Linked DNA regions of Homo sapiens. The protein of the gene in region 4 interacts with the protein of the main gene of each other region in a biochemical or structural test. Each region holds a gene or a part of one and is shown on either strand. Other genes may lie near its edges. The genes, in order: NEK6, MARK2, SMTNL2, PTPRD, ABLIM1, DDX17 and TSSK2.

Region 1 (3,500 bases), about 120 Mb from region 4:
TTTGTGAAGGGTGAGTGGCTACCATTTTTGGATCATCTACTTTTTGTATTAGCTAACTTGCATATTTTATTTCAAATTCTGTCTGTCAGCAATCCTGAAGGTAGATGATAGGTACTATTAATCTCATTGTACAGATGAGGAAATGAAGGCTCAGAACGGCTAAGAAACTTGCCCAAGCCCAAAGTCACGCTAGGAAGTTGCAGAACCAGAATTTGTAAAGGACAGCCCTTCGCTTTTCTATATCCCATGCTTCCTTCCCATGGAGGAAAATGCTTAACACTGATCATGAAATGAACCGCCAGCATTCAAGGAGGTGACGAAGTTCCTGGTACACAGCAGGTGTCCAGGAGAAGATGGCCCAGCCTGGCTGCCAAGAAGATGCTCCTGCTTCCCGATGCCTTTTGCCTGTGACACTCTGGCCAGGTGCAGGGCTCTCATCGTCACTCACCAAGTTATAAAACGTAGATAAAAATGTTAGCAGAATCACCACTCCACGGAAAAAAATGATTTCCACTTTATCCCTTTACAACAGAGTAAATTAAGCACACAGCTTGATTGAAAAGATACTAAGAACTAAACTGAACCCGGTACTAACCATTTTCAAAGGCTCACTACACAAATCACACGGTCTCCTGCAAGTCTCCTGTTAGCATAAGCCTTGACAGGTCACTGGAGGAATTACCCTAAAGATTCACATTACAATCCAGATACAGGGGGCTGCCGTGGCTCGCTGAACCACCTGCCCTTATTGACCCAGCTGAGATTGTCCACAACAGTATAAAGAAAGGACTTTGGAATCTGACCATCAGTGACATGTGGCCAGCGCCCCTCCCTCAGCTGCTCTGCCTTCAGCATCTGCTGTAAGGCTGGGCAGCCTTTTGGGGAACCTGCTGAACCCTGTGGTCTTAGCTGTTCTAGGCTACCAGGTGGCCACTCGAAGAGAAGACGACTCAAGTAAGGCAAAGTGGTGCTGGCTTTGATAAGGCACGGTGCATCCACGCTCAGGTGCTGGACATCCAGATGTGCATCTGCTTGGCCACCTGGTGCACGTATCCGATGTCAGGTCTCTGGTGGGGGTCAGGGCAGATGCACATGCTGACCAGTTCTCGTAACTGCAGGGGAGAGAATGGTGTGTTATTCTCAAGAAAGCAGTCTTACTGAGGCTCCGCACTCCACAGTCTGTCTGCATGAAGGCACTTCATCCTCAGAGCAACTAGATGGTCCCGTTGTCCCCGTTAGAGCTGAAGAACGGTGTTTAGCTGGGGCAAGTAAGGGGTGCGCAGCCGCATGGCTCCCAAGGGCTAGCCAGTACCCCTCCCAGGCCTGTCTAGTCCCAAAGGCTGTGCTTTGAGACCCTAAGAATGGTTAACCTCCAAATTATTTTGAACTTGTAGCTGTCCACACCATTGGGCAAATTGTGTGTGTGTGTGTGTGTGTGTGTGTGTGTCTGCTGTCAGTCACGCAGATGCCCAAACCAGAGGACAAAACTCAAGGCAAGGGCTTATTGATCATAATAAACGCATTAACATGCAGCAGGGCTGCAGTCTGCCCACCCCCGGCCCCTTTATTGTGCTCATGAAAGACGGAGCTTTTAATTATACAGACACTGAAGGCTGCTCCCGCCCCGAGGTGGGGGAGGGGCGCCTTGCGCCTCTGATCGCCTCCATTCTTCTGATAGCCGGAGTGCCAATTATTTTAATGGTAATTAAAATAATGACCTTAAAATGCCTACATCTTACCCTGCATCACGGGCTCACAGCCATTGGTTTCCATTTAAATACCTGCTGCTGGAGGGGTGGTCAGCCCCGCAGGCCACAGCAGCCGAAGCAGCAGCAGCAGCAGGAAGCTGGGTGGTCCTGAACCAGAGGGGGCTCTGGTGGTCTCAGTGGCCACACTCACTCAGGGACTGGGAAGGGCCCACGGGACGTTCTGGAGGCCCGGGGGCTACTGCTGCGCAGGCCCGTTAGGCTGAGGGATGGGGCCTGGGCTTCCTGTAGACTAGGGCTCCTCTCAGCTGATGGGGCATTTTCTCCCTGGGCCACAGAGCCTTAGGGTATCCCCTCGCACCTGCGTGCATGCCTTACAACCGAGAAGCCCAGGTGACACAGGGCCTGCAGCCTGCTAGGCCACTCCCGGAGTCTGAAGTCGCCTGTGGACAAGACAGCTGTTTTCTGAACCTTACAATATTCGGGGGAAGGTACCTGTGGTTGGCCTCTGACAGGTTAAAATACCCAAGAAAACCAGATTCAGGTGAAGTGTCTGTGACCCGAACTAATTTATGAAGTAAACGCACAGTTGTCAATAAGTGCATGTTTGAAGTTTTCAGAATTCAAGAGAAAAATAATAAAAGTGTCTTATTTTCATTTCTAAGCAGCGATATAACTTTAAAATAGGGTGTGCTGGGGGCTCCTGAGCACCACCTCTCACTCCTAAGCATGGGGCCCGGCGAGAGCCAGTGCTCCGGGGAGTGGGGGCTCGTGGCCAGGAAAGGGCTGACTTGGGACAGGGGCTTCAATGTTCATTTCAGCCTCATCACTGAAGTAGAGAGGGCGACTCCCATTTCTAGACTGACAGCCAAAGCACAGAGTTGTCACCAGCTCCAGTTGCACAGCTTCAAGCTTCTGAATCATACACAAGTCCGAATTCAGAAGATGAGAAAGGAAAAAAGCAAATGGCAACTATTAACTTTGTAAAGAGATGCAACTTGTTTTTCCTCCCACTGGGGAGGAGAAATACTTCCTCCAAAAGTGCAGGTCAGAACTTGGGAGCCAGGAGAGGAAGGGCACTGTGCAGCGCCCGACACTCGAGCTCCTCTAGCCCTGGAGTCTGCAACGCCAGCAAGCACAGGCTCAGCACAGGTGCCCTGCGAGGAGCCTCCGGCCTGGACACAAGCGCAGCACCCAGGACCTGCCCTGTGCAGTTTGGCCGGGGCAAGGGCACTCCTTCCAGAGCCTCACCCCAGCTAATTGATGGGCCACCAAAGACATGCCATCAAGAAGCACGATGGCTCCGTGGCTGCGCATGTGGGTTCAGATCCTGCCTCACCGGTCTTTTTAACTTGCCTGTGTCTGTCTGTTCCTTATTGGTAAATGGGTGAGGGGAAGATTCAACTCAGGAAGTCTGAACATGAGCTGTTATTATCGTGAGGTGACGGCCTGTGGTCCTATGGGGTGGGCCCACGGAGGCCCCAGACTCACCCACTAGCGTTGACCTTGAACAGAAATAAGGGTCACATGATATTTAGTGAACACTGACTGAGCCAGGCCCCATCCATTGGCCACTTTGGATGGTGGTGGCAGTGTTAGCCTGGTGCCTTACCTTAATCCTTATGCTGATCCTGTGTGGAAGATTTAATATTATCCCCATTGTATAGGTGAGGAAACTGAGACTCAGGGAGGTTAGGTGACTCACCTAGGAACAGTGCAGAGAGTGTGTGAACATGTATCTACACTTTTGACCCTGCTGTGCCAGGAAACCTGTCCTTTCTTCCTCACCATTAT
Region 2 (3,500 bases), on a different chromosome or scaffold from region 4:
GGTGGTTGTCTAGCTCATGCACGGCCTTCCCTGTGGCTGGGAAGTTGGGGAAGCTGGAGGAGGGCTGGCTGTGGGGACGTGCTACCCGGGATGGCATCAGGATGAGCCAGCCATGCCCTCTGCTGCGTCTACCAAATCCAGCCCCAAAACAGCAGGCAGGTTTTGGCTGGGTGCCTCTACTGGAGGGAGTGTGAGCCCGTGTGCGTGAATATTCAGAATCCGAGCTGCTGCCTTGGTTCAGTGACAGTACACACCCCAGCTTGGTCTGTGTAAAGGGGTGGTAGAGCACCAGAGGGGGACCCCATCATTTTCTGATTTACAGTAGTCAGAGGGCTCTGTTCTAGGGGATAGGCCTTTCCTTCCTGGGCCTCTAGGGTGGTGACAGAAGAAGCCACTCCTATATATAGCTGATGCCAATTTTAATCAAATCCACCTCCACACACTCACGCTCTCTTTGTGAAACAAAACCAGGGGCTCCAAACCATGTATTTCCATAAAGAAAGATGACAGAAATGAACTCCTTCCCCTCTGCGGGGGCCAGAGAACTGGAGGTGGGGCTTTTTGTAATTTCAGGCCTCATCACTTGCACAAAGAACAGAACTAGTTTTTGTTGTTGTTTTTGTTGGGGGTAGGGGAAGCCCTAATTCAAGATATGGTTTATGGAATAAAGTGAATACATTTGTTTCCCCTTTAATGATGCCCCAGAGCTTTCCTAAGCTAGAAAGGAAAAGAAGAAAAAGGCTTTCCAATCCTCAGGAACCCAATGCTGACCTTACCCTTTATTAGGGCCTAGGTTTTTCTTACTTTTTTCCCTGGTCCAACAGATATTTTGGATGGAGAGGCAAAAAGCCTGGATACCACCCTCTGGGGCAGTAATGGGGAGCAGCTCTGAAATAGGGCCAGAGGCAGCTGCCAGGGCTTCTTCCCCTGAGGCTGCTCACCTGGCATGGAAGTGACATTCTTCTGGGAGAACTTGGGGTTTTCTGGGCTTGTCTAGACCCCTGAGGGGGCTAGCTTCTTCAATGTTCATTTTTCAGGGATCATTGCTGAGATCACATTTTTGGCCAGAATCAGACTGGCTTTAGTAACAAAGAGTCTCAAAAGGTTTTGAAAATGGCTCTATTTGTCTGGTGTTGGTGCCTTCCAGAGAGTCAGGAAGAATTAGGGAGAAAACCAAGAAGAATTAGGGAGAAAAACAAGGTCAGGAATAAGATGGCTTGGTGGACTGGCGATTATTACGATGGCAGGCTAGACTGCTCCCAAGGCCAAATGGCCTACCCCACGCTGACTTCTTCTGTGGGGCTGGAGCCAGGATGTCATAAGCAGCCCTTTTTCCCTTCCTCCTGGAAAGCTTCAAGCAGAGACACCCTGATGATGACAACAATGTTTCTACTGAACTGAAGAACCCTTGAAGGGATCCCAGGGGTAACAATAAATAGGAAACACCTTGGTTCTGGCTATTTGCATGTCCGGAGAACAACTCATCCACTCTAATTCCATGAGCATCGCCCTCAACAACAATCCTCAGCCCTTACTCCTAAGGTTCCCAGTATCACTATCTGACTCTGTTAGCACGAATCATGCCTTCTCCTAACTCAACTGCCACAATATGCTTATGGAGAAAATATCTGATTTGCCACAAGATGAACAGAACTAGGTTTTGTTCAGAAAATTTGAGCTGGAGCTCATTCTCTAAAAGGTAGCTGGCACAGAACCCACCGGCAGGTTCCCTGCTTCCTCTTATTCTTGTATTTCTAAAGCCACTCCCCTGTATCATTCCAGATCTTGAAGTAGCTGCACGTGTTTCTAGTAGTGGCTACAAACATGTGTTTTTGCATAGGGCTGGCCACAAGCCAGAAGATAACAAGATGCAGGAAGTAGGTCAGACAGGTAGGCCAAGTGGCTGGGAATGAACAGAAAGACTTCACAAGAGCCAGTGCCTATGGCCAGGAAGCCCACTCAGGAGGAGTCACCACAGATGATCCAACCAAAGCCCCGAAGGTAGCAGAGCCATGGGAGGGAATGGTTGGGGGACGGTGAGCGAAATGGCCAGAAAATTTAAACTAGGAATTCAAGAGAAGGTCTAAATGGGGTCAGTAGATCATTGACCCCAGAAGAGAGATTTAGAAAGGGACAGGTGGGCTGGGGGCAGTGGTTCACGCCTATAATCCTAGCACTTTGGGAGGCCGAGGCGAGCGGATCACTTGAGGTCAGGAGTTCGAGACCAGCCTGGCTACCATGGTGAAACCCCATCTCTACTAAAAATACAAAACTTAGCCAGGTGTGGTGGCGGGTGCCTATAATCCCAGCTACTCGGGAGGCTGAGGCGGGAGAATCGCTTGAAACCAAAAGGCGGAGGTTGCAGTGAGCCGAGATCACACCATTGCACTCCAGCCTGGGCGACAAGAGTGAGGCTCTGACTCAAAAAAAAAAAAAAAAAAAAAAAAAAAAGGGACAGGAGGTGCCATGTGCTTACTTTCTGGAGGCTGGAGGAGTTCAGTTGAGTCTTGTCAATGATCTTCACAGCTACCTGAGGATGAGACAAAAAGGCCCCAAATCACTTCTCTGACCAGCGAAACCCAGGATTCCAATCTACTTCCTCCTTTATATTTCTTACTCCTTTTCATCCCACAGCTTTTTGCACCCCTATATCTCAGATCTCATTTCTGCCGGATAAACAAGAGGTTGGCTGCAGTAGTAGTCCCATCACCACCTGCTGGAGTGTCAACAGGGCTGGGAGGTGCTGCCATGTCCCCAGTCCCAGTGCTCACCTCTTTCCCAGTCAGGATGTGTCGGGCCAACTTCACCTTGGCAAAATTACCCTTGCCAATGGTCTTGAGGAGCCGGTAGTTTCCAATGTGGGGCTGCTCATCAGCAGAGGTGGCTGAGTTGCGGCCCCGAATCATGTTGGACTTACTGCTGGGCTTGGAGTCAAGGTGTCCCAAGGTGGGCTGCGGGGTGGAAACAGAGATACCATTACATGCCACACTTCCAGTCCTCTAAACGCTCTCTGCAAAATATATAAGGGATGAGGGTGCAGGGGCAGATTCCAGGGGGCTGGTAGGCATGTGAAGAATGATATGGCAGCAGAAGAAAGGAGAGGGGGCTGAGGTGACAGCCAGTCTTCACTCCAGAGAAGCACATCATAAGGTCCAGTGCCCAGGTCCTGTGGGTGGCAAAGCTCAGGAGCAGAGCTGTCCCATCACTGGCTCCCTGAACCTCCATTGGCAACACAACAGCTCGTCTGGTTCAGGAGGGAGAGCCGGTACCCTGCCTCCCTCCATGCTGCCTGTGCACACTGCGAGAAGACTGCATCTCAAAGTCATGGTAGCTACATGGTCATAACTGCTTCAACGCCCTCATCGCCACCCAAAACTTACATGAACCTTTATTTTTTATTTATTTATTTTTTTGAGACAGAGCTTTACTCTTGTTGCCCAGGCTGGAGTGCAATGGTGCGATCTCAGCTCACCGCAACCTCCACCTCCCGGGTTCAAGCA
Region 3 (3,500 bases), on a different chromosome or scaffold from region 4:
TGGACATAGAGTCACAGCCCCACACCAGGCTGCTGGGTGTCTGACCTCTCAGACTTTGTGTCTGTGTAGTGGGGGTCTGGGTGGGACAATCTCATCCCATCCACATGAGCCAGGGATGGCTGTACTACCTGGCATTGTAGAGGTTGGTGTCACACTACCCCTCTGTAACAAGCAATGACATTTAGAGACCCAGTTCCTTTCAAACTGGGGACTGAAGGATTGGAGGTAGATTGTCTCCAATATATAAATGTCCCCTGAACTCAATACAGGAAGGGTTGATCAAGTAATCCTGTCTGGCTGGGAGCAGGGAGCTGAGAGCCAGCTTGGGGCCGGGGGTGGATGGTGGCAGCTTGAGGCCAGGCCCAGGCCCCAGCAGGTTGGGCCAGAGCTGTGGCCTGGAAATGTCATCCTCAGCTGAGCTGGAGCCACTGGGTCCCTATGCCCGAGGCAGCGGAGGCCCCAGGAACAGCTGCCAGGAGCCCCATGTCAGAGGCCCGACCATGAAAGAAGCCAGACTCGCCTTATCTGCCTTCCTTTCCCAGACACACTGTGCGATAAGAGAGTTAAATGCTTTAGGGAGAAGTTTGAATTAAGTCCTTTCAAACGGTGTTGTGAGTGGAGGAGGGCCGGGTCAGCAGTGTGAACTGTCTTAGGATGGGGCTCTGGCCCTGCGTGGGTCTCGTCCCCATGGATGGGCCCGTGCAGATCAGGCAGCACCCAGAAGGCCTGAAATATTCTTCCTTCCCCTACAAAAATGTCTAAAAGCTTTTCCAATAAGAAGGTCCCTGAAATCAGACTTACCTCATCACCCTTCCGCCTTTCCCGTGAGTGCCTCAGGCCTGGGCTCCCTCATGGGGCACCTCCCCTTTCTCAAAACAAAGCCGAGCTGGGGAATCTTGGGGGGTACCAGGCCAGCTCAACAGGACCTGTCCCCAGCCCCAGGGCTCTCCAGCGATTTCTGCCCCGGTCCCAGCATACCGAGGCCCCTCCCTGGTTTCCTTCCGCATGACGGCGACAGGCTGCCCCCATCAAAGGAGAGCAGTAACCCACTGGGGACTCTGCGGGGACAGCTCGTTCCAGCCCAGCCCTTTGGTTGAAGACCTCTGAGTTCTGTGAAGGTCCCACTGGGTGGTGACCCCAGTCCCCCGCCTTTTCCTCACACTCATTGGCTAAGACAGATCCCATGGGGCCGGGGCTCATACTGACCCAGGTCCTGGAAGACAACTTTGCCTTGAGTTGTCCTCTCTGCCCCCTAGAAGGCCAGAGCACTTTGTGGACAGAGCCCTGGTTTGGGGTGGGAGACCCGAGTCCCGTACTTTGGCTCTGCCACTACCTTTAGTCATGGTGTGGGGTTTAGGGGTTCCCCCTGCCCCACCCCACGTCTTGCTTTCCCCATCTGTGTGATGATGGGTTGGAGGATGGTCTCAGAATAGCCCCTTGCGCCTTGACCTAAGGCACGGGCAGACCCCTTTCCCCAGGTGACGAATGCTTCTAGTCGTGGGGCAGGGGAGCTTGGGAGTCTGGGCTCAGCCCTACACCCCAGCCTGCATTAGCCCAGCCCCTTCCCCTCCTCCCTTTGCCGGAGAACCCTTAGCAGTGATCTAACCAGGATAGAACTTACTCCCAGTCTGGTGTAGCGCCTGGTCCCCTGGGGCATCATGGGGGTTGTTGAGGGGCTGCAACGTGCAGGGACAGGCATCTGCGGAGGGCCTCCCACCCACCTATAGAGAAACATATTTCCTGGGAAAATGGTTTCACCCTCAGCCTTTCCCCCCAGAGCCCCGCCTGGACCTGTGGAACCTGTCAGACGAGAGCAGGGTGGGTGAGGGGGCACGGAGACCCCAGAGCCTGGTGACTGTGGGGGCCGGGGTTCCAGCTGGACTGGCTGGTTCTCCTCCCCCTGCCGACATGGTCTACACGGCCGCAGCGTGGCTCTAGGGGCACCCGTTCTGCTCTGCGTGCTGGGAGACGCCCTGTGCTTTTCTTGCGTTTCTGAGAGTGGGCCTGGCCTCTCCTCCTCCCACTCTTGAATCAAGAGCTCAGGGGTCGCCTCCTCTCCAAGGCTGGCTCTTCCCAGGCTCTGGGTCCTGTCTGCTGTGAGCTCCCCAGTGGTCCCGCTCTGCAGATGCTCCCCTCACCTTTCTCACCCTATGAATGTGGTCTTGCCTCTTCCTTCTGGAAAAACCCCTCAGACCCTTTCCCCTGGCTTCGCTCAGGGCTAAAGTTACTGCGCTGTCTTCATTTCTCTGGGACCCCTCTGCTAGGCCATCTCCTGTCCCCCAACCCCCTGTCCCCCGCCCCACGCTTCTGATCACCCATGACCTCTTCTTTTGCTGAACCCAATGGATGCCTGGTTGGATTTCCTCTTCACCTTTTCCTCAACCCCAGGCTGCCTTTGGACGCACCTGGCTTTTTTTTTTTTTTTTTTTTTTTTTTTTTTTTTTTTTTTTTTTTTTGAGACAGAGTCTCGCTCTGTTGCTCAGGCTGGAGTGCAGTGGTGCAATCTTGGCTCACTGCAACCTCCATCTCCTGGGTTTAAGCGATTCTCATGCCTCAGCCTCCTGAGTAGCTGGGATTACAGGCACCCACCACCATGCCTGGCTAATTGTTGTATTTTTAGTAGAGATGGGGTTTCACCACGTTGGCCAGGCTGGTCTTGAACTCGTGACCTCAAGTGATCCACCCGCCTCGGCCTCCCAAAGTGCTAGGATGACAGGCGTGAGCCACCGCGCCTGGCCCCGTGCCTGGCTTCTTGACTCCCTTCCTTCCTGGCCTTGGCTTTCTCACCATTCTTCAGGGGCTCCTCCTACGTCTCTGGCTGCTCCTCATTCTCCGCAGACTGCTCTGTTGCTTCCTGAAATGTGGGGGCCTCATCCCAGGGCCCCTAAGCTGCTCTTCCTCTGCTGGGCTTCCAGGAGCCCAGTGCATGCCCCTGACTCCTGTTTTTCCATGTTCGTCCTTCTTTTCTCTTAAACTCCAGACTCAAAAATCCAGCTACCTCCTCAGCTCCCTGATGCTCCAGGTGCCCCAGGCCCTCAACATGTCCCAACTGAAACCCTCATTTAGCCCCTAAACCTGCCCTGACCCACCAAGTCTGGGCTTGGGAGAGGCTTGGCACCCTTCCTCTTCCATGTCCACCCAGTCTCCCAGCCAGATCCCTTTTCCCCAAAGCTCCGAGTCCTTCTTGCCCGTGGCCCTCCCAGTGCCCCATCTCCCCTCCCCAGGTTCCTGCCCAGGACTAGTGAAGTGTCTTGCCATCTGGTCTCCACTCTCTGGCATCTTCTGAAGGGTGTGCCTGAAACACAGAGCCGAGGACCTTGGGCTCCTTCTTGTCTAAGGCGTCAAGTACCCAGGGCCAGCAGCTTGGGCGGCAGGGCAGGCAGCTTGGGCGGCAGGGCACTTCTCCATCTGCCTGCGTCCTGGACGGGCATGATCAGGATACCTGTGCCTTGATGTCTCTCTGCAAAAGCAGACACTAATCACTCTGCTGGGAGTGCCCT
Region 4 (3,500 bases):
ATTTGTGTTCATTTTGCAATAGTTCTAGCCATCTGCAGAAAACTTAAGTTGCCCTATGTCTGACTCAATTTGCAAACACTTTCTAGAATTCTATAAACACTAGGGGAAAAAAAAACGGTACCCTTACATGCTTGTACTCTTTCTCTTTAGTTCAAAAATATTCATGTAATATAGTACTTTGGTTATATTTAGTCTGTTTTTTAAAGGAAAGAATATTCCTTGAGCACTCATCTATGCAAGGTGAAAGATAAAACTACAACAGAATATACTCTTACTTGCCTTTTGATTTTTAATAGTAGGGCTCACCAAAAAGTTAAATCATCTATTACTAGACTATGTTGATTTCAACTTTTTTTTTCTTCTTTTTCCTTTGTATTTAGAAATTTTAAGCATTTATTAATGCTCATATTGACTTTTCTTGGGGTTCTTATCAAGGTTCTGGTCTAGTATGTAGACTGTACACATCAGTCCCACCATAATGGTCGACCATGTGTAAAATTCCTAGTTCTGTCTGGTTAGTGCCTGGGCCTCCATGGACTGTCTTTTAATATTCTGATGATTATCTCTACATAGGCTGCCAGATACTTCCAAGAAAAAATCCGCCTATCTAGGCTTATGCATGTTATATAATACCACAGATATGATTAGGTTATACACACATTTAAAATGCTGAATAATGAATTATTTTAGATTTTCAAGGATGGGCTTTCTAGAGGCATTAGTCACTTGGCTTGAGTGTACCCAGATCCTCAAAGCATAATCCATTGAGCATACCTTTGACAGTGATCTGTGCTATTGCTTCAATGACACCCAGTGTTGACATAGCAACACAGGTGTAATTTGCTGACTGTCTTACATCATTCAGTTCTAGCACATTTCTTCCTATTGGCATATCATCTTCAGGTGTCAGATCTTCTGCCCCCAACATCCACTTTACATAAGGCATTGGTGACCCCACGGCCACACAGGTGATATTAACGCTTCCGCCTGGCATGATTTCATGATTAGTGGGTGGGATAGAGAATCTTGGTGGGACACGGCGAACTGGAACAAAACACAAGGGAAATGATAACATATACAAGGCAAGAAAAAGTGGATTATTAAACACATGACATGCACCGTACAGACACGATTCAACAATTGAAACATTGTGGATTGTCCAAAAACAAAACATAAAGAAAAACTGTGGATAATACAGACCATACAAGTATGGTGTGTGTATACACAGAATTATTTATTTAGTTTAGTCATTGATATCTTAGACACACTAATACAAAAGTTGATTCAGACCTACAAGGGCCCCACAAAAAACTATCTACAAACTAACAATACACAAACATCATGCATAAGATAAACACAAAAACATATACATGCAGGCATATAACAATGATTCTATGCAGGCATGTATATGCAGAAAAGGGGGCTGGAAGGTCACCAGCATGTTTAAGTTGAGTATCAAAACCAACTTCAGTGCTGTGCACTTCCAGTTGATGTGAATGTAGGTGTGGGACCACACTGTCACATCCCAGCCCTGGAAAACATCACCTAGAGTACACTGAAAGTGCACTTTATGTTTTCAGATTCATAGTGGATGCAGCCTCAAGACCTCACACTAACACTGGAACAAACACAGAAATGTATATACATATTGATTTACAGTCACAGAAGAAGAAACAGGCTAACACCAGTAGAGATACTGGATTGGGTCATGCAAGGCATGCACAAGATGGAATCTCAAGGCCCGTGCTAAGGATATTGAAAGAATGGCTGGAATCCAAGACAGCAATGACCGCAGAAGAAATAAGGGGGCAATAGAAATAAACGTGAAAGGGGGAGGTAAAGTATAACGATTGAAACACAGGGACTTAGGGGATGACAGGGTTGAAAGACAGAAGATTAAGCTCAAGTTGTTAAAGGTAAGGATTGCAAATTCAGAAAGGGAGCTGGGTGTTTCACATACAGGATTCCATTCAATTCATATCAAAGGTAAAACAACATAAATGACAACAAAATCTTTTAAAAGGCTTTTTATGCCCACATTCAAATTGAGGGACACTGGATCTAAAACATACAGCAGGACATGACATTAAGAGAAGAGATCATATTAAAGCAACATAACACAGAAAAATTACCAAGCAATTTCAGTTCAGTGTTCCTGCTTCAGATAATCTGCAGGTTTATGTGTGTTTAAGTAAATGTGTTTTGGATGTGATACAAGGAGAAAGTGAAAGATAAATTGGTTTCATCTGGGGCTTTTACTGGCAAAATGTCATACCATAAGAATTTGAGATCTAGAGGGTAATCTTTAGGGAGCACACCTTAAATACATTTAATAAAGATTTTTTAAAAATTATAAATAAACTGATAAGTAACCTCATAACCCCAAGAAGAAGATAAGTAATTCTGTCTGAAAACTTTTTGGCTGCTCTTAAGGTCGAGATAAACCTCCGCTTATTTGAGATGGCTCACTGCAATGGCCTCATGGGTGAATGACAGTCATAGGAGAAGAAGAGAAAGCTAAGCATGCCTCCTGCAGCCAATTCACAGAGGTTACACAAAGCAAGCAGGAGCCAGTGTAGACTCTGAGGTATCAAAGAACATATCAAGAAAAATGGAGGAGAGTTTAGTCTTCATGCTTGGGATTAGGGGAGAAACTAGAAAAAGTCATTCTATGGGCAGCAGGCATCCTTATAAGACAGAAATTAAAGGCAGGGTGGGAGATGGGGACAGTGGAGCAGGAAGGAAAGCAGGAACACTGACCAAGTTCACTGGACCTTACAGAGTTAAGTGTTACCAGTTACCATGCACCCAGGTACATTCTCTCCCACCATGCACCACAGTTAGATACCACCAGCAAGCACCAGAAGCCATGGCCAGGGCATTCTCTGCTAAAACATACCATTAACCAAAAGAAGAACACAATGCAGCTACATTCATTTCATTTGTATTCTTTGTTATTGGTTTAATTAATAGTTTTGTAAGGTGGGTAAAAAGTAAAAAACACACCAACCTTCTCGCAGCTCTGAGGGATGTAGGGGGTTTGATGCAGAACACAATGAAATGAGGAAAGGAGAAAAACAAGGGAAACACAGAGAGAGTAAAAAGGCCATATCAAGGCTTTCAACTGCTACTTGAACATCTTTATTCGCTCTAGTTCATCCTTCCTATCTCAGCTGGAAAAGTTAGCAATATCTCACAGACTAACATGGTATTAGAAACAATAGCTAGCATCATTTTGAAATTTTCCATGGAAGAAGGTACACATGCCTCATGCAGCAAGGGAGGTCACTATTGTGGAAAAAGGATCAAGGGACTTTCGAAGAATTTAGAGAAGAAATGACTTTCTTCATATTTCCCCACCCCAGACTCCATAAAAAAAGAAAGGAGAGAAAAACATCCCCAGGGAAACAAAATTACCTCTAACAAAAATTTCAAAATCAAGCTAGGTATTTTCTTAAGGGAACCCATCCTATTGTAACTTAAAGCCCTCTCAGTCTTTT
Region 5 (3,500 bases), on a different chromosome or scaffold from region 4:
AATATGTGAAGCTGAGTAAGAAAAAAGTAAAAAACCAATTGTTAGGAAATCAGAAGGTCCAATCCTTTAATGAAATTGGCAGTATCTTCTACCTCACAGGATAGAAATACCAAAAAAATTCAAATCATATTGGGCTCAAATGTTCAAAAATATGCCATCATATTTGCAAGGAGTGGGTGGACAGTGATATGACTGAGGAGGGAAGGGAAAGTCAAGTCCACGCGGTTGAGTGGGGGCTGAAGCTGGCTGTGCTTCCTATAGCTCTGGCATGGAGCTAAGTGTTCAGCATGCTTTATTTCTTTGAATCTTCAATATAACCCTAATAACACTATGATTATTAGTTCCATATTACAGAAGGAGAAATAGGGGCTAAGAAAAATATCCTGCCAACAGTTACTAAGCTTCTAAACAGCTGAGCAAGGATGTAAATCAGGGATATCTGAATACATTAGCCCATGCCCCAGTTGATAAGGCAGCAGTAACTGAACTGGAAGCCAACCCTGTATGTTATCAAGATCTACCAGCCATCTACAGCTGGCCTCCTGGGAGGCCTGATACAGGGTATCTGTCAATGATATGGAAGCCTGATAAGCTGCTGGGCTTGAGAGGGAGCAGCCCTGGGCTTGAATTCTGGTTCTGCAACTTAATACCTCTGTATCTCCGGACATGGTGTTTAATCTTTCTGAAGTCCTCATTTCTTCATCTATGCAGGTACAATGTTATACATTCTTATAGAGCAGAATCTCAGAATTCCAAGGAACTCTAAAGATTTGTAAACCACCGAATCCAAGATCAATGCCAGTGAGGCATCTATGAAGGGTAGCGGGAATTCCAGGTAAGGGTGTGGGCTCCGGGGTTATAATATGTGGACTTCTAAATCCTAGTCTTGCTAGTTATTGGCGTATCACGCTGGGTATGTTAACTCAATTTCTATACCAGCCTCCTGATTTCTAAAATAGAGATGAAAATGCTGCAGTTGCTAATAACAACCACATCTACTTCACTGGCATGTTGTGAACATTAAATAAAATGTTTAGCAAAAATGCTTGCATGGAGTGAACATTAAATGCATTTTTTTTTTTTGAGACAGAGTCTCACTCTCACCCAGGCTGGAGTGCAGTGGCGCAATCTTGGCTCAATGTAAGCTCAGCTTTCTGGGTTCACGCCATTCTCCTGCCTCAGCCTCCCGAGTAGCCGGGACTGCAGGAGCCCGCCACCACACCTGGCTGATTTTTGTATTTTTTAGTAGAGACGGGGTTTCACTGTGTTAGCCAGGATGGTCTCGATCTCCTGACCTTGTGATCTGCCCGCCTTGGTCTCCCCACTAAATGCATTTTTAAAGGAACTCTTAGAGGAGAAAATTATGCTCTAGCTCAGAATATGAGAGAAGAAATCTTGTGGTTTAAGAGAGAATTGGCTTATGACAAATAGATACAGGGGAAAATACACTGATAGGCTATTTCAGCCCAGTGTATAAGTCATCTTCTTCAAAAGTATCAAAAACACTGTTCATCCTCAGTTCTTGTATTGAAGATTTTTTTTCTTTTTTTTTTTGAGATGGAGTTTCACTCTTGTCGCCCAGGCTGGAGTGCAATGGTGTGATCTCAGCTCACTGCAACCTCCACCTCCCAGGTTCAAGTGATTCTCCTGCCTCAGCCTCCCGAGTAGCTGGGATTACAGGAGCCCACCACCACGCCTGGCTAATGTCTGTATTTTTAGTATAGATGGGGTTTCGCCACGTTGACCAGGCTGGTCTCAAACTCCTGACCTCAGGTGATCCGCCTGCCTTGGCCTCCCAAAGTGCTGGGATTACAGGCATGAGCCACCGCACCCGGCCTCTATTGAAGATATTAATGTAAAATCATAATGCTTAGAAAATGTCTTATTCATGTTATCTAAAAAAAAAAAAAAAAAAAAAGAAGAAGAAGAAAAGCATCATGTTTTTTAGAGGATTTCCTTTTGCTGCTTCCCTTGGAGATGAGTGTTCTAGAAGACAAACCTAGTATATGGGGATTGGCCTTCATGGATTTTGAGAACCTCCAAGGGTTCACCCATTTCCAGAAGAAAGGAAACACACATTTATGGAAGACCCATGACATGCTTATGAGCTCATTTGACATGGAGTGGGTTTCCCACACTTCCTTTCCCGTGGAATACTCTGTAGGTTCCACCACAAGTGAACAGTCAAGGCAGGTGCCTTACAAGCAGGTGGCTGGCTCTCGAATCAGGGAAGGTTGGGGGTTTGCTGCTTACCTGAGTTGATGGGAGAATCGTAGCGACTGGCTAACAGAGATGACCTTTCCCGGCTCTCTTTCTCCATCTCTTCTTTCAAGATCAACTGTCCCAGGCCTGAGTTAAGCTATTCACAGAAAAAAGGAAAAAAAAAAAAAAAAGAAAGCAAAGCTTGCAATTACTTTCATGGAGCTGCAGTTTCTTTGTAGCAGATCCCACAAGAAGTTTCTCTTGCTGGAGGGCCTGAATGCATGTGGCCCCAGAGCCTGGTAGTTCCTGAAGAGGTAGGTCAAGTTTGGGACCCTAAACCCTCTTAGCCCTTTCAGTTTCAAAGCTCCATTTCCCTAAGTCAGGCTCTGTGTTAGAAGAACGTTTTCCTTCCTCTGCTTTCCCTAAAGAGCCAGGAGACCTCAGAAGGCATGTGTGAGTGTGTGTGGATTTTTGATGTGGGAAGGGAAGACTGGGGCTGGTATCCTTTAAAAAGAAATTGCCTTGATTTGTTTAAAAACAAGAAATAAAGGTAATACATGCTAATTTTACAGATTTTGGAAAATCTAGAAGAAAAGAAGAGTAACCCATAATATGTCACTCAGAAATAACACTATCTTTTGATTTATATCTATCTAGTATTTTTGTATACACACATATAAAACTGAGATCATACTATAAATGCAACTTTGTATCCTTTGACTAATATCACGTGCATTTCCTATATGCTTAGAAAACATCATTTGAAAGGATTCAGCAGCCTCTTGACTGATAACAGACTGTCCTTCTGGGCTGCTGCAGGCCCTTGCTACAGGAAGGAGGGTATGAAGAGGACCCCTTCATGGTGGCCATTCCTTTCATTCCTTTTCTCCTGGCCCACATCCTGGGAAAAGACTTGGAGAAATGTTCAATCCCACAGTCATTCCTTCAGCAGAACTGCATGAGGGAAGGAAGGTGTGGCACTACCTGGGTGGATACCACCTTGCTCTGCCTGGCCCTCCAGCAGCCTTTCAACACATGCACTGCACACATGCCCCCATGTGGTCTCTCTTTCCTTCCCACAACAACCCAAACCTTCCACACCCCTCTGACCTCCAGCACCAATGCCATCTCCTCTAGAGCCCAGCAGGTATTCTGCCATATTCTAGTTACTATTAACAGACACCTGTCTTGCCTTGCCTGCCAGATTTCAAGCCCCTTGAAGACTGGGACCACCTCTTGCCTATCTAGATGGTTTATACATAGTAGTCATTCAAAAAATATAGATCTTATGTAACTAG
Region 6 (3,500 bases), on a different chromosome or scaffold from region 4:
CTGAAAGAGTAACCATTTCATGTGTAGAGTCCAAAAAACAATGGTAATGAGGTACAAGAAGAGACAATGTTGGCTGGGCACGGTGGCTCCCACCTGTAATCCCAGCACTTTGGGAGGCTGAGGTGGGTGGATCACTTGAGGTCAGGAGTTTGAGACCAGCCTGGCCAACATGGTGAAACTCCGTCTCTACTGAAAAAAAAAAAATAAATAATAAATGAACCAGGCGTGGTGGCACATGTCTGTAATCCCAGCTACTCGGGAGGCTGAGGTGGGAGAATTGCTTGAACCTGGGAGGCAGAGGTTGCAGTGAGCCAAGATCATGCCACAGCACTCTAGCCTAGGGGACAGAGTGAGACTTCACCTCAAAAAAAAAAAAAGCCAATCTATCTTTTTCACTAACAGATGAAAAAACATGACCTAATATACAATATTTCAATCATGTATAATAAACAGATTAGTAAGCATTATCAACAAGAGAACAAATTAAATGCATATTTAAACTGGTCCCCTTTTATGAGTATTAGGGGTCTTAGATAAGAATGTAAGAAAGGCTGGGCATGGTGGCTCACACCCATAATCCCAGCACTTTGGGAGGCTGAGGCGGGCAGATCACAAGGTCAGGAGACGGAGACCAGTCTGATCAACATGGTGAAACCCTGACTCTTGCACTCCAGCCTGGGTGACAGAGCAAGATTCCGTCTCAAAAATAAAAAGAGGCTGGGCGTGGTGGCTCACGCCTGTAATCCCAGCACTTTGAGAGGCTGAGGCAGGTCGATCACCTGAGGTCCGAGGTCCGGAGTTTGAGACCAGCCTGCCCAACATAGTGAAACTCCATCTCTGCTAAAAATACAAAAAATTAGCCGGGCATGGTGGCGGGTGCCTGTGATCCCAGCTACCTGGGAGGCTGAGGCAGTAGAATCGCTTGAACCCAGGAGGCGGAGGTTGCAGTGAGCCAAGATCACACCATTGCACTCTAGCCTGGGCAACAAGAGCAAAACTCCGTCTCAAAAAAAAAAAAAAAAAAAAAAAAAAAAATCAGCTGGGTGCAGTGGCTCACGCCTGTAATCCTAGCACTTTGAAAAGCTGAGGCAGGTAGTTTGCTTGAGCTAGGGAGTTCAAGACCAGCCTGGGGAATATGGCGAAACCCGGTCTCTACAAAAAGGAAAAAAAAAAAAAAATTAACCAAAAAATTTTTTAAGAAAAATATCACCACACTAGAATAAAATGTAAAACGGCAACAGTAGCGTATGAATAAACTCTAACCAATATATCTACTTGGTTCAATAATCTGTACATTAAAACACACATGTAAACTTACTGGTGTCAGCCTTGCTACTTCCGGATGTTCCACATAAAAATTTTTCTCAAACTTGGGGAGCTCACTCAAATCCCACTTTTTTTTACGCAAACGCTCCCCAGGATTACCAAATTTCTTCGGGGGAAGGCCACCACCACCTCTTGCTCCAAATCTAGGAACAGAATTTTTAGTTAGTTCATCAGTATTTTTAAAGCAACGTATCGTACATGCCATAAGAATATTCAAAAAGGATGGAGTTCTAGGGATACTACCAGCCTACCTCCAAAAAGACCATTTTATTTGCTGTGATTTAAAGGTATGGAGAAATGTGTAAAACCTCCCTTACTACCCAACAATAAATACTGTTTATGAATATAGCTACAATAGGCAAAAAATTAAAAATCCCTTTATTGAGAGAAATACATCCTAGGGATTACAATCACAGATTCTGGATCCAGACATGGTTTGAGTTTTTATTCTGCCACTTACTGTATAATTTGAAGAGAATTATTTAACTTCCACACACCTTAGTTTCCTATGCAAAGTAGAAATAATACCACTTATTTCAGAGGCTGCTGAGAAAATGACCTAATAATGTGTAATGTACTATAAAAGTATCTGGCATAGCCAGCACTCAGTACAAGTTAGCATCATTTCATTCAACAAATAGTTATTAGGTACCAAGTTACTAGGTACCAAGTATGTATCGGCTACTGTTTGAAGTGGTGCTGTGCTGGAGTTACTAAACAAAACAGACACAAGTCTCTATTTTTGTGTAACAGACATGCAGGCAAAGGATGACATTAAGTTAAGTTTCAATTAAAGGGAAGATTGTGGACAAGAAGGAAGATACACTCCAAGCAAGTCCCTCAATCTTAGAATAGCTTCTTGGGCCTGCTCCCCTATTAAACTGTGATAAGCACTCCACCTGTCTGCTTATCTGCAAAGCAAAACTGGGTCTTGGAAAGGACTGGTAGACTGGTCTTCATTTTTAGCTTACGCTAATAAAAGAGCTGAGCCTGCCGGGGGCAGTGGCTCAGTCCTGTAATCCCAGCACTTTGGGAGGCGGAGGCCAGTGGATCACTTGAGGTCAGGAGTTTGAGACCAGCCTGGCCAATATAGTGAAACCCTGTCTCTTACTAAAAACACAAAAGAGTAGCCAGGCGTGGTGGTGCACGCCTGTAATCCCTAGCTACTTGGGAGGCTGAGGCAGGAGAACCGCTGGAACTCGGAAGGCGGAGGTTGCAGTGAGCTGAAATGGCACCATAGCACTCCAGCCTGGTAGACAGAGGGAGGGTCCGTCAAAAAAAAAAAAAAAAAGCTGAACATAGATTTATGACCTTTCCTTCTTCTTTGATCTCTACTTTTACCTTCTATCTCCTTCTTGTTCCCAAATGGTATTATTAATTTACAGAGAAAAAAACACTAACAAGACTTATTTAAGGCTTTAACACTCAACTAATTACTTAAGATCAACTTCTTGCTTTTTATATACCTTTCACAACAGACAAGCTCAAGAGGAATACAAATATGACCACTAGCCAAAGCTAATATTTAAGAAATCAGAAGCTACTTTTCCTAGAAGAATCTTAACACTAAGATGGCCTTAATTTTCCCTATTTCGATCTTGTAAAGTACAGGTCTTTGTTTGGCATACAAACTGTATAGCATTTTCTCAGTTTCTTTACTCCTTGTAAAATATTGTACTGAATTTAGTTCCCTTTTCCCACTCTAACCCACTTGTAACTTCATCTTATATAAAGTTCCACTTTATCATTGATAGGCAAGTAGGTGTATTATTCTACAGGGCCTCAATTTCCTGCAATTCAAAGCCATTAGAACTCTGGCTTAACCAGCCAGACATTCCTCTAAATACATACGTAACAAAAATTGATGGCAGGAGATTTTATTGGGATCACTGGATACCTACACTCAACAGGCAGAACTTGGCTAATTCCATTTATACCACTACTGAGACAGTGAAGACAAATTAAGAATCAGAACAGGAAGAGCACATAGCATAGGGATACCCGTGTCAGCGACATATTTAATATGCCCCTCAGCTTAAGACTCAATACTGAACAGACCAAAAGGCCACCTCAATTGCCGCTCCCGCCACACTTGCAAATGAAGCAGCTAAATAAGGTACTTTTCAAGAGGTAGAAAGTCTTTGGATTATCACTCTTGCAAATTATAAAAGACT
Region 7 (3,234 bases), on a different chromosome or scaffold from region 4:
CACTTTCAGAAAAAGCCCTCTCTTCTCCCAGGCTCTCTGCTGCCTGGGTGCCTTCCTGCCGCCTCTACCCAAGGGAGGCCCTGCCCCACCCCTCAGACATGCAGCCACCTGCCCTGGACCCTGGGCACCCAGCTGGCATGCACTGCAGCCCCGACCCACCCATACACAGGCCCTTGCTCGCTGGAGCAGCAGCGACTCACCTGCCCGGCTCTCTACCCTGAGGGGCCTGCCGCCTCTGCTCCCAAACACAGAGCTGCTTTCGTCTACCAGGCTTGGCACCACTGCCAGCCTGACTGGTCCAGGGCAGTCCCTCCCAGGTACCACTGTTCCCAGAACCAAGCCAGGTCCAGCTGCATTTTCTTGAGGCCCAATAACGAGAAGCAGACAAACTAGGAAAGAAGGGAGTTTATCACTGTAACTGGATACAGGGAGAAGGCTGGAGATAATTCCAGCAGACCAACTCAAAGTGCTACAATTTTCTTACTGTTTATATAGGTTGGGGTTATGTGCCTACATGCAGTACAGCAATCACCTAAGTCTACTGGTAACTAATTTTGTTCCAAGGAGAAGGTCAGAGGCAAAAAAAATGCTTGCTAAGTCCGATTAAAAGGGGCCCAGTGCCTTCAAGGCCTGTCTACTGTGGTACCGGAGTGATTATTTCGATTGTATCTCCTTTACAGCTTGGTCCAGAGAGCTGCCTTAGACTATCCAATTGATCTATTCAAACAGCTGCCTGTTCCCTTAACTTGTCTTCAGATTTTGTCGACCCGAGATGGGTCCTGGCACTAGGAATGTAAAACCGTTCCTATTATTTTGGCTTGCTCCAGCAAAAGAGAAGCCCATGCAAGGCTCCTGCTGACCATGTTTCATTTCTAGCTTTGATGTCTGGGCACTGATTTCCCTAGATTTAACTATGTGCTCAATGGTAAGGCAGTGCTGTGGAAATCTGTCTGTGTAACTGGGGTGCTATGCAGGCCTGTCTGGGTGACTGTCAGGGACAACTGTCCTACCACACCAAGGACACAGCCCTGGGGGTGCTTTTCTTCATAGCCAAAGAAGCTGCAGGAAACCCACCCTAGTGGGACAAAGACCAATGCAGGGTCAGTCCCCACAGCCAGGTGATGCAAACAGGCTGGACGTGGGCCGCCTCCCCTCCAGCTTGACTTGTGACAGGGAAACCAATGCAGCAGCAGCAGGGCCACCAGAGTCCTGTCCTGGGGACAGGCTTCCTTCCAGCGGGCGGGGAGTGGGTGCTCCTGCCAGACCAGCCTGGCTTCCACGGTTCCAGAGACCCTGTTCTCCCTCAGCCCAGTCCCCGCCCCCACTCCTTGGCTTTATGAGTTCATTGGCTGAAGTCACCCGGAGACAATGCTGAGTGTTCCACCCCTGAGTCGAAGCCCAGCCCAGGGCAGCCCAGCCAGACGCCTCCGGTAGTGTAAATGAGGACAATGCCTGCTGGCCCACATGACGGGGGGATGTAGACGGCAGCGGCGCCAGTCGCTCCTGGCACCATGGACGATGCCACAGTCCTAAGGAAGAAGGGTTACATCGTAGGCATCAATCTTGGCAAGGGTTCCTACGCAAAAGTCAAATCTGCCTACTCTGAGCGCCTCAAGTTCAATGTGGCTGTCAAGATCATCGACCGCAAGAAAACACCTACTGACTTTGTGGAGAGATTCCTTCCTCGGGAGATGGACATCCTGGCAACTGTCAACCACGGCTCCATCATCAAGACTTACGAGATCTTTGAGACCTCTGACGGACGGATCTACATCATCATGGAGCTTGGCGTCCAGGGCGACCTCCTCGAGTTCATCAAGTGCCAGGGAGCCCTGCATGAGGACGTGGCACGCAAGATGTTCCGACAGCTCTCCTCCGCCGTCAAGTACTGCCACGACCTGGACATCGTCCACCGGGACCTCAAGTGCGAGAACCTTCTCCTCGACAAGGACTTCAACATCAAGCTGTCTGACTTTGGCTTCTCCAAGCGCTGCCTGCGGGACAGCAATGGGCGCATCATCCTCAGCAAGACCTTCTGCGGGTCGGCAGCATATGCAGCCCCCGAGGTGCTGCAGAGCATCCCCTACCAGCCCAAGGTGTATGACATCTGGAGCCTGGGCGTGATCCTGTACATCATGGTCTGCGGCTCCATGCCCTATGACGACTCCGACATCAGGAAGATGCTGCGTATCCAGAAGGAGCACCGTGTGGACTTCCCGCGCTCCAAGAACCTGACCTGCGAGTGCAAGGACCTCATCTACCGCATGCTGCAGCCCGACGTCAGCCAGCGGCTCCACATCGATGAGATCCTCAGCCACTCGTGGCTGCAGCCCCCCAAGCCCAAAGCCACGTCTTCTGCCTCCTTCAAGAGGGAGGGGGAGGGCAAGTACCGCGCTGAGTGCAAACTGGACACCAAGACAGGCTTGAGGCCCGACCACCGGCCCGACCACAAGCTTGGAGCCAAAACCCAGCACCGGCTGCTGGTGGTGCCCGAGAACGAGAACAGGATGGAGGACAGGCTGGCCGAGACCTCCAGGGCCAAAGACCATCACATCTCCGGAGCTGAGGTGGGGAAAGCAAGCACCTAGCATGACAATGGCCCCGTTGTGTGTGGTGGGGGTCGGGGTTGGGGGGCATGGTGCAGTCGGCCTTCACGTAAACTAAGTAGGCAGGTAGGATCTGAAGAAGGCACAGGTGCAAGTAAAATTCGTCAATTAAACCACTATTTTGATTACGTTCCATTAGCTTTCTTCCACTTAGCAGCAAAGACGTTCCTTACTGACCACCAAATAAACCACAGGGTGTGTGCAAGCATCAAGAGTGCCCAGTGAGGAGTGTTTTTCTCTGGGACTCAGCCAACCGCCCCACCTGACACACAGTGGTCTCCGGCCTAGGAGCACAGGACAGATGCTCAGGTACAGGCAGAATCACAGTGTGGCCTGGCCTTGTGGGGGACAAGAGGGCCTCTGCCAGGGTCCACCCACCAGGCCCACACTGTCTCCCTCTGACCTGGCCTTGTCCCCAATGCCCTGGGGCTGGCCAGCTCCAGTGGTCCACGACTCCCCCTGGCTTCCTGCAGTTCAGCCCCCTCTGACCTACCCCCACTCCCTCACAATCCCTCGCTCAGCATCCTCCTCTTCCTCTATTTCCTGGAGTCATGTGAGATTTCTGTCCTCAGCCCTCAAGTTCCCTGCCCTGTCCTCCAGGGGCAGCCCCAGCTGAGACCTCCCCGTG

The links.
Region 1: the proteins of PTPRD (region 4) and NEK6 form a complex in vitro, tested with the Homo sapiens proteins (one study listed by BioGRID and IntAct).
Region 2: the proteins of PTPRD (region 4) and MARK2 form a complex in vitro, tested with the Homo sapiens proteins (one study listed by BioGRID and IntAct).
Region 3: the proteins of PTPRD (region 4) and SMTNL2 form a complex in vitro, tested with the Homo sapiens proteins (one study listed by BioGRID and IntAct).
Region 5: the proteins of PTPRD (region 4) and ABLIM1 form a complex in vitro, tested with the Homo sapiens proteins (one study listed by BioGRID and IntAct).
Region 6: the proteins of PTPRD (region 4) and DDX17 form a complex in vitro, tested with the Homo sapiens proteins (one large-scale study listed by BioGRID).
Region 7: the proteins of PTPRD (region 4) and TSSK2 form a complex in vitro, tested with the Homo sapiens proteins (one study listed by BioGRID and IntAct).

What each region holds. Positions count from the first base shown.
Region 1 is NC_000009.12:124,348,449-124,351,948, reverse strand, and holds part of NEK6 (serine/threonine-protein kinase Nek6), read right to left. Parts: intron 1,113-3,500; coding exon 1,002-1,112; 3' UTR 1-1,001. UniProt on the Homo sapiens protein: Protein kinase which plays an important role in mitotic cell cycle progression. Required for chromosome segregation at metaphase-anaphase transition, robust mitotic spindle formation and cytokinesis.
Region 2 is NC_000011.10:63,894,610-63,898,109, reverse strand, and holds part of MARK2 (serine/threonine-protein kinase MARK2), read right to left. Parts: intron 2,952-3,500; coding exon 2,772-2,951; intron 2,531-2,771; coding exon 2,477-2,530; intron 1-2,476. UniProt on the Homo sapiens protein: Serine/threonine-protein kinase. Involved in cell polarity and microtubule dynamics regulation. Phosphorylates CRTC2/TORC2, DCX, HDAC7, KIF13B, MAP2, MAP4 and RAB11FIP2. Phosphorylates the microtubule-associated protein MAPT/TAU.
Region 3 is NC_000017.11:4,587,529-4,591,028, forward strand, and holds part of SMTNL2 (smoothelin-like protein 2), read left to right. Parts: intron 1-3,500.
Region 4 is NC_000009.12:8,520,503-8,524,002, forward strand, and holds part of PTPRD (receptor-type tyrosine-protein phosphatase delta isoform 1 precursor), read right to left. Parts: intron 3,023-3,500; coding exon 3,011-3,022; intron 1,045-3,010; coding exon 775-1,044; intron 1-774.
Region 5 is NC_000010.11:114,441,776-114,445,275, forward strand, and holds part of ABLIM1 (actin-binding LIM protein 1), read right to left. Parts: intron 2,360-3,500; coding exon 2,254-2,359; intron 12-2,253; coding exon 1-11. UniProt on the Homo sapiens protein: May act as scaffold protein. May play a role in the development of the retina. Has been suggested to play a role in axon guidance.
Region 6 is NC_000022.11:38,499,812-38,503,311, forward strand, and holds part of DDX17 (probable ATP-dependent RNA helicase DDX17 isoform 1 precursor), read right to left. Parts: intron 1,470-3,500; coding exon 1,319-1,469; intron 1-1,318. UniProt on the Homo sapiens protein: As an RNA helicase, unwinds RNA and alters RNA structures through ATP binding and hydrolysis.
Region 7 is NC_000022.11:19,129,889-19,133,122, forward strand, and holds TSSK2 (testis-specific serine/threonine-protein kinase 2), read left to right. Parts: upstream 1-1,419; 5' UTR 1,420-1,511; coding exon 1,512-2,588; 3' UTR 2,589-2,734; downstream 2,735-3,234.